Linked DNA regions of Homo sapiens. The protein of the gene in region 2 interacts with the protein of the main gene of each other region in a pairwise test. Each region holds a gene or a part of one and is shown on either strand. Other genes may lie near its edges.

Region 1 (3,500 bases), on a different chromosome or scaffold from region 2:
TCTTATGTGGCTCCAGCCTAGCTTGTAATATTGGATCAGATAAGGCTGAAGATGAAGAACTGATAGAGGTTCTTTTTTTTTTAACTTAAAAAAATTTTAAAATAGAGACAGGGTCTCTCTATGTTGTTCAGGCTGGTCTTAAACTCCTAGGCTCAAGGGCTTCTCCCACCTCAGCTTCCCAAATGGCTGGGATTACAGGTGTGAGCCACCATGGCGAGCCTGATCGAGGTTCTTGAAGCCTCTATCCAACCTTAACCACTTCTAAGCTTGATTAAATTCAAGAGTAGATTACATGGTGCTGTTAGTACAGGTCAAAAAAAAGACAGGGATGGAATTAGAAATCCGCAGGTTCTACCAGCTCAAGCCCATTGGAGGAAACTAAAGAGCAAAGTTGATCCCTAACCTCCATGTTGAGTTGTGGAAGGTAGCCACAGTTAAGTGCAGTTTGGTCACGCAGGTTTCCTGGAAACTGATATTGGTGGCTTTTTGCATAGAACCATGAGTCATGCATCTAAGAGTCATAGACTTTGACTGTGGGAGGGGTGTCGGTTCCTCTAGATGGTAGTTGGAAGGGGTGGGAGGCTTAATCACTGCCCAGTAACAGTGAAAAGGGGAAGGGGAAACGGAGCAGCATTCTCTCTGGGGCCCTTATGGCATGTGGCAAAAGTAGTGACAATCTTCACCAGGTGAGAAGATTTTCTTACTCAATTTAGTATGAGTCTGGAGAGGTAGAAAGTGGGAGAGGAAGGAAGAAGAGGTTCTTCTTCCTGTCTGTGAAGGAAAGAATCAGTAGGAATGTCCCTAAGTTTGTGGGCACCTAGCCAGCTGGTGTTCTGTGGACAATCAGGTTACACGGGCCTGAACTAATTGTCACAGGATACCAGGATGTTGGGGCTGATGTGACTCTAGGAGGCATCTGGCTCAATTCCTTTCTGTTACTGATGGGTGAGTTAGTTATTTTCCTATGTCCAAAACATCAGTTTATTAGCAGACTGAAAATTCAAGCCCAAGGCTCCTGACTCTGCAGTGTCATGTTCATTCCACTACATCAGATAATTCTGAGGTAATGAGGCTTTGAGAATTCAAAGATGAATAGCATAGATCCTACCCTCAAGGAGCTCACATTCTAGTGAGGGAATAGTCACTTATAAAACAAAATGGTTAGTACAATGGCAGAGGTACACAGGTATTACAGATACTCCTTAGGGCAAGTGAGGGTTGGGTGTGAAGACTTAGACACAAACAGAGAGGACTTCCTGGAAAAGTGACACATCATTAGGATGATGAGTAACTAACCAGAATAAGAGGCCAGAAAGAAAAGAGAAAATTTCAGCAAAGAAACACATTACCAAAGTAAGGAAGGAAGCATTAAGACAAGGATTCAATATTGCTTTGCTAAATTTTAAAGTATAATACAGGGGGTGTTGCCATGAGTGTGGAGTGATGGACAGGAGCAAATTAGGAGGGGCCTTTGACGTAAGTGTACATGCATAAATCCATCACCACAGTCAAAACACTGAGCGTATGCATCACTCACCACAGATTGTTGTGGCCTTCTGTAATCCCTTTCTCTCACCCTTCCCTGCTCCCTCTCTACTCACCTCCTGCCCTCCCCCACCTTCATCCTCAGACAGTCATTGATCTGCTTTCTGTTGCTATAGATTAGTTTTCATTTTCTAAAATGTTATATAACTGGAATCATACAGAATGTACTCTTTTTTATTTAACCTCTTTCACTCACCATGATTATTTTTACATTCACCTGTGCTGTAGAGGGTAACAACAGTTCATTCTTTTTAATTGCTAAGTAGTTTCCATTGTAAAATTATACCACTATTTATTTATACATTCACTTGTTTATGGACATTTGGGTTGCTTCCAGTTTGGGCTATTACAAATAATACTACAAAACTATGAACCTTCCTGTACTAGTCCTAGTATGGACATATGCTTTCATTTCTCTTGGGTAAATACCTAGGAGTAGAATGGCTGGATCATATGATAAGTATATGTTTAACTTTGTACAAAACGAGCAAACTGCTTTTGAACATGGTTATACCATTTTACATTCCCACCAACAGTGTATAAGAGTTCCAGTTTCACTACATCCTCACCAACACTTGGTGTGGTCAGGTTTTGAAAACATTTTAGCCATTCTAGGAGATGTGGAGTGGTATCTTACCATGGTTTTAATTTGCATTTCCTTAATGAGTAATGAAGTAGAGAATTTTTTTCATGTCCTTATTTGCCATCCATATAGTATCTTCTTTGGTGAATTGTCTGTTCTGATCTTTTGCCCATTTTAAAAATTGGATTGTTTATTTTCTTACCATTGAGCTTCAAGAGTTGTTTTTATACTCTGGATACATGCCTTTTATCTCCTGTGTGATTTGGAAATATTTTGTCCCTTCTGTGCCTTGTCTTTTCATTCTCTTAACAGTGTCTTTTGAAGAGCAGAAGTTTTTAATTTTGAAGAAGTCCAATTTATCAACTTATTGTGCTTTTGGTGTCTTATCTGAGAACTCTTTGCATAACCAAGGTTGCAAATATTTCCTTCTGGAGAATTATAGTTTTGGATTTTACCTTTAGATCTATGATTCATCACTAGTTACGATTTCGTATGGAGAGAGGTATAAATGCAAGTTCATTTTTGCATATTAATAGACAATTGTTCCAGCACCATTTGTTGAAAAAAGTATTCTTCATTCTGTAATATATTAATTTTGTATTTTTTTTGAAAATCAGTTGTCCATATGCATATGGACTCTATTCTGTTCTCTTGATATATTTATTTAACACCAGTGCTATCCTGTCTTTATTGTTGTAGTTTTATAGAAAGCAATATAATTAGGTAGTGTTTGTACTCCAATTTTGTTCTTTATCAAACTCATTTTTACTATTCTAAGTCTTTTGCATTCCCAAATGAATTTTAGAATTAATTTCTTGAAGCCTACAAAAAATTCTGCTGTAATATTGATGGGGATTACAATCTATAGATAAATTTGGAAGAATTGACATCTTAAAAATATTGAATTCCTGGTAGATGGACGTGGTATATCTCTCCATTATTTGCATCTTTTCAATTTCTTTCAGCAATGTTTGTTTTTAAGTTTTCAGTGTACAATTCTTTCACAACTTTTGTCAGATTTATGCCTAAGTATTTCATATATGATGCTATTGTAAATGATACTTTTAAAAATACTTGATTTCTAATGGTTACTAGTGCATAGAATGCTATTATTTTTTGTGGATTGAATCTTGTTTCTAGCAACCTTGCTACACTTACTTGTTAGTTCTAGTAGTATTTTTGTAGATTTATTTAGATTTTCTACAAAGACATTCATGATATCTGTGAACAAAGCCAGTTTTACTTTTTTTTCTTTCCAGTTTGGATGCCATTCTTTTCATATTTCATTTGCACTGCCTAGAAACTCCAGTACAATGCCAAATAGAGTAGTTAAGAGTAAACAGACTTATTTTCCTCCTTATATAAGGGTAAG
Region 2 (3,856 bases):
GATGTTCTTTGCTACCAGAGTATCTATTTTGCAGTGAGTGCAGGAACCCTGTCAGTTTGTGCCCCGCAGGTGGTCATGGAAATGCATAAGTGGATCCTAGTCCTTGCCATCCTTGCCTGCCAAACGCTTTCCTCTCAATTCCTGCTAGGAGCAGGCAGTCCCGATCCAGCAAGGTTCCCATCCTCCCTGACCCAGGCTGCCGGACACCCAGTCACTCTGCATCAGCACTCCGCAGGCCTGGCCCCGGACGCCCACAGCCACTCACCTCAACTCCTGGTTTAACACTTTGATCTTTCCGTTTTCCATTAGTGAGTAGTTGGCCTGGATGCAGCGTCCATTCTCAAAGGTTGTTGGGATCTTCTCAATTTCGTACCATCTTCCGAGATACTGCAGAGACAACAAGCAGAGCAAAACCCTGTGGTTCTCTGGGGACCTGCAACTTCTTCCCCATTGTCGTGCAGACGCAGAGCCCTGTCCTGGGGAAGCCAGACAAAATGGGCCTCATTGTTCCCAGTGGCAACTGGGCAAGAGATTGATTGCAATGAGAATCTGTGACTAGGATGGGATGTGCGGGCAGGGGGTGAATGCTGAGTAAAGGGCTCTTCTCAGGGCCCACTTCAGCCAAAATCGCTGTGACATTCTAGACTCTGTAAAAAAAGGGGATGATGGGAAATACCTTTCATCTGAAACAGTGCACAATTCTACAAGTCATCTTTGAATCCTGTGCAAAGTCAGATGTGTTCGCTGTGGGGAGCTAGGACTCCAGAGCGCACGGAACTTTCCTCATCTGACCCTGAGGAGGGATTTAGTCATCAAGGCTTTGGAGAGGTGGTGGGGATTTGAAAGGTCTGTATCATGCTTTCTCTAGGGGCCTGCGCTCAGTCCAGACTTCAGGTGTATACAGTTAGCTTTAAAGGAAGCTGCCACTGTGTGGGGAAGGTCGAGGGAACCAGGCCCTCCTAGGCTGCCTGGCACGCGTTGCAGGGAGACCATACCAGTTTACAACCTCTGCGGAGGGCAGTTTGGCAATATCTAGCAAAGCTAAAAATACATATTATACTCTTTGGCCCAGCAATTTCACTTCTGGGAATGCATCCTCCTGATATAAGAAATGATGTATGTGTAAAGTTATTCATTACAGTACCGTTTGTAATAATACAAGATAGGAAACAGCCTATGTGAGCATTAGTAGGGGGCTGGGTGAGTAAACGATGGCATATCCAGACAATGGAATTTTACTTCCTCTTTCAAAAGAGTGGTATGCAGTGATTTCTAATATTTAATGACAAAAGAGTCAGGTACAAAATAGTGTATCTATTAAGGCACCTTTTGTGTAAAAATGGAGAAAATGTTTATTACGTTGGTTTTCTGTTGCTGCTATAATAAATTAGCACAAGCTTCAAACAGCACAGATTTATTATCTTGCAGTTGTGTAAGTCAGAAGTCTGACAGGTCTCACTGGGCTGAACTCAAAGTGTTGGCTGTGTTTCCCTCTGGGAGCTCTAGGGGAGGATCAGTTTCCTTGCCTTTTCCAAGTTCTACAGGCCGCCTACATTCCTTGGCTTGAGGCTTCCTCTATTTTCAAAGCCAGCAAAAGGAAGTCAGATCCTTCTCACATTGCATCTCTCTGACTCTTATGCCATCATCAAACCTCTCTCTCTTATCACAGCTGGGAAAGATTCTCTGCTTTTAAGGATTTATGTGATTAGATTGAGTTCCCCTGGATAATCAAGGCTAATCTGGCCATCTCAAGGCTCATAACTTCGATCACATTTGCAAAAGCCCTTTTCCCATGCAAAGTAACATTCACAAGGTTAGGGCGTGGACACCTTTGGAAGCCACTCTTCTGCTTACCACAGTTATTAAGTATTTGCTTGTATATGTATATATTATCTGTAAAATTACATAATACATGGTTTTTACTAGTTGCTACTGGGGAGGGAAACTGAGGTACAGAGGTGGGAGGGAAACTTTATGTGGTGTATTCTTTTACACCTTTAGGATTTTGAACAATGTAAATATATTTATCTAGTTAAAATACTAATTAGAATTTTGTTTTTTTGAGATGGAGTCTCACTATGTCACCAGAGTGGAGTGCAGTAGTGCAATCTGGGCTCACTGCAACCTCTGCCTCCCGGGTGCAAGTGATTCTCCTGCTTCAGCCTCCCGAGTAGCTGGGATTACAGGCACGTGCCACCATGCCCGGCTAATTTTTGTATTTTTACTGGAGAAGGGGTTTCACCATGTTGGCCAGGATGGTCTCAATCTCCTGACCTAGTGATCCCCCTGCCTCGGCCTCCCAAAGTGCTGGGATTACAGGCGTGAGCCACCGCGCCTGGCCTATTCTAGAAATTTAAAAACAAAAAGAGATGCGCTCACCTTCAGAGTCAGAACTTGAAAAGAGAGGATGCTGCACACAGGTGAGTATTGCTTCAGCCACGGCTTTCCGCTCAAATGTATGCCACATTCATGACCATAAAGTTCTACTCACTTATTAAAGCACAGCTTTCAATTAAAGCCACTGAACTTAACATTCATTTAAAGTACCAAAGAATAAGGTTAGAGGTTAACTGGTTTCATAGACATTCTCGGAAGAAGCTCCATTTTCTATGGTGCATTCAAATCTGTTCTATTTCTGTTAAAGTGAGTTTAGTGCCCCATAGTAAAAACCAAGGAAGCATGATTTTTCAGAAAAGAGGAAACTCAGAGCTTCCTTATGATCTCATATTATTTTTGCAAAGGCTTCTTAATCTTTTCAGATCTCTGGTCAGTATTGAAAAATAATCCTAGAAAAGAAGAGGTAAAACTCTATCTGTTTGCAGATGACATATAAAATATCCTAAGAAATCTAAAACAGAGACAAAACCAAAAACTATTGGATCTAATGAGTTAAGCAAGGTTACAAGATACAAGATTAATATTCAAAAATCAAATATATTTCTCAGCCAGACGCAGTGGCTCATGCCTGTAATCCCAGGACTTTGGGAGGCCGAGGCGGGTGGATCACTTGAGGTCAGGAGTTCAAGACCAGCATAGCCAACATGGCGAGGCCCCATCTCTATAAAAAATTTAAAAATTAGCCGGGCATGGTGGCACGCAACTGTAATACCAGCTACTCGGGAGGCTGAGGCAGGATAATCTCTTGAACCTGGGAGGCAGAGGTTGCAGTGAGCTGAGATGGTGCCACTACACTCCAGCCTGGGTGACAGAGCAAGACTCTGTCACACACACACAAAAATATATACATATATAAACATATTTCTCTACTTGCAATGAACAATTTGCAGATGAAATTAAGAAAATTCCATTTAAAAGGCCGGGCACGGTGGCTTGCTCACACCTGTAATCCTAGCACTATGGGAGGCCGAGGCGGATGGATTGCCTGAGCTCAGGAGTTCGAGACCAGCCTGGGCAACATGGTGAAACCCCGTCTTTACTAAAATACAAAAAAACTTTGCTGGGTGTGGTGGCGTGTACCTGTAGTCCCAGCTACTTGGGAGGCTGAGGCAGGAGAATTGCTTGAACCCGGGAGGCGGAGGTTGCAGTGAGCCAAGATGGTGATGCTGCACTCCACCCTGGGTGACAAAGTGAGACTCCGTCTCAAAAAAAAAAAGAAAAGAAAAGAAAAAGAAGAAAATTCCATTTACAATAACATCAAAAGAATAAAATATTTGGGAATAAATTTAACCAAAGAAACATAAAACTTATACTCTGAAAACTACAAAGTATTGTTGAAAGAAATTAAAGATGACCTAATTCAATGGAAAGATACACTATGTTGACAAGTTAGAAGACTTAATATTGTTAAGATGGCAGTACTCCCCAAATTGATCTTCAGATTTAATGCAATCTGTAT

Evidence for each region. Proteins that work in one complex are often made in the same cells at the same time.
Region 1: the proteins of APOD (region 2) and CD53 interact in binary tests that used the Homo sapiens proteins (3 or more experiments, as listed by UniProt).

Annotation. Positions count from the first base shown.
Region 1 is NC_000001.11:110,879,648-110,883,147, forward strand, and holds part of CD53 (leukocyte surface antigen CD53), read left to right. Parts: intron 1-3,500. UniProt on the Homo sapiens protein: Structural component of specialized membrane microdomains known as tetraspanin-enriched microdomains (TERMs), which act as platforms for receptor clustering and signaling.
Region 2 is NC_000003.12:195,573,585-195,577,440, forward strand, and holds part of APOD (apolipoprotein D precursor), read right to left. Parts: intron 388-3,856; coding exon 266-387; intron 1-265. UniProt on the Homo sapiens protein: APOD occurs in the macromolecular complex with lecithin-cholesterol acyltransferase. It is probably involved in the transport and binding of bilin. Appears to be able to transport a variety of ligands in a number of different contexts.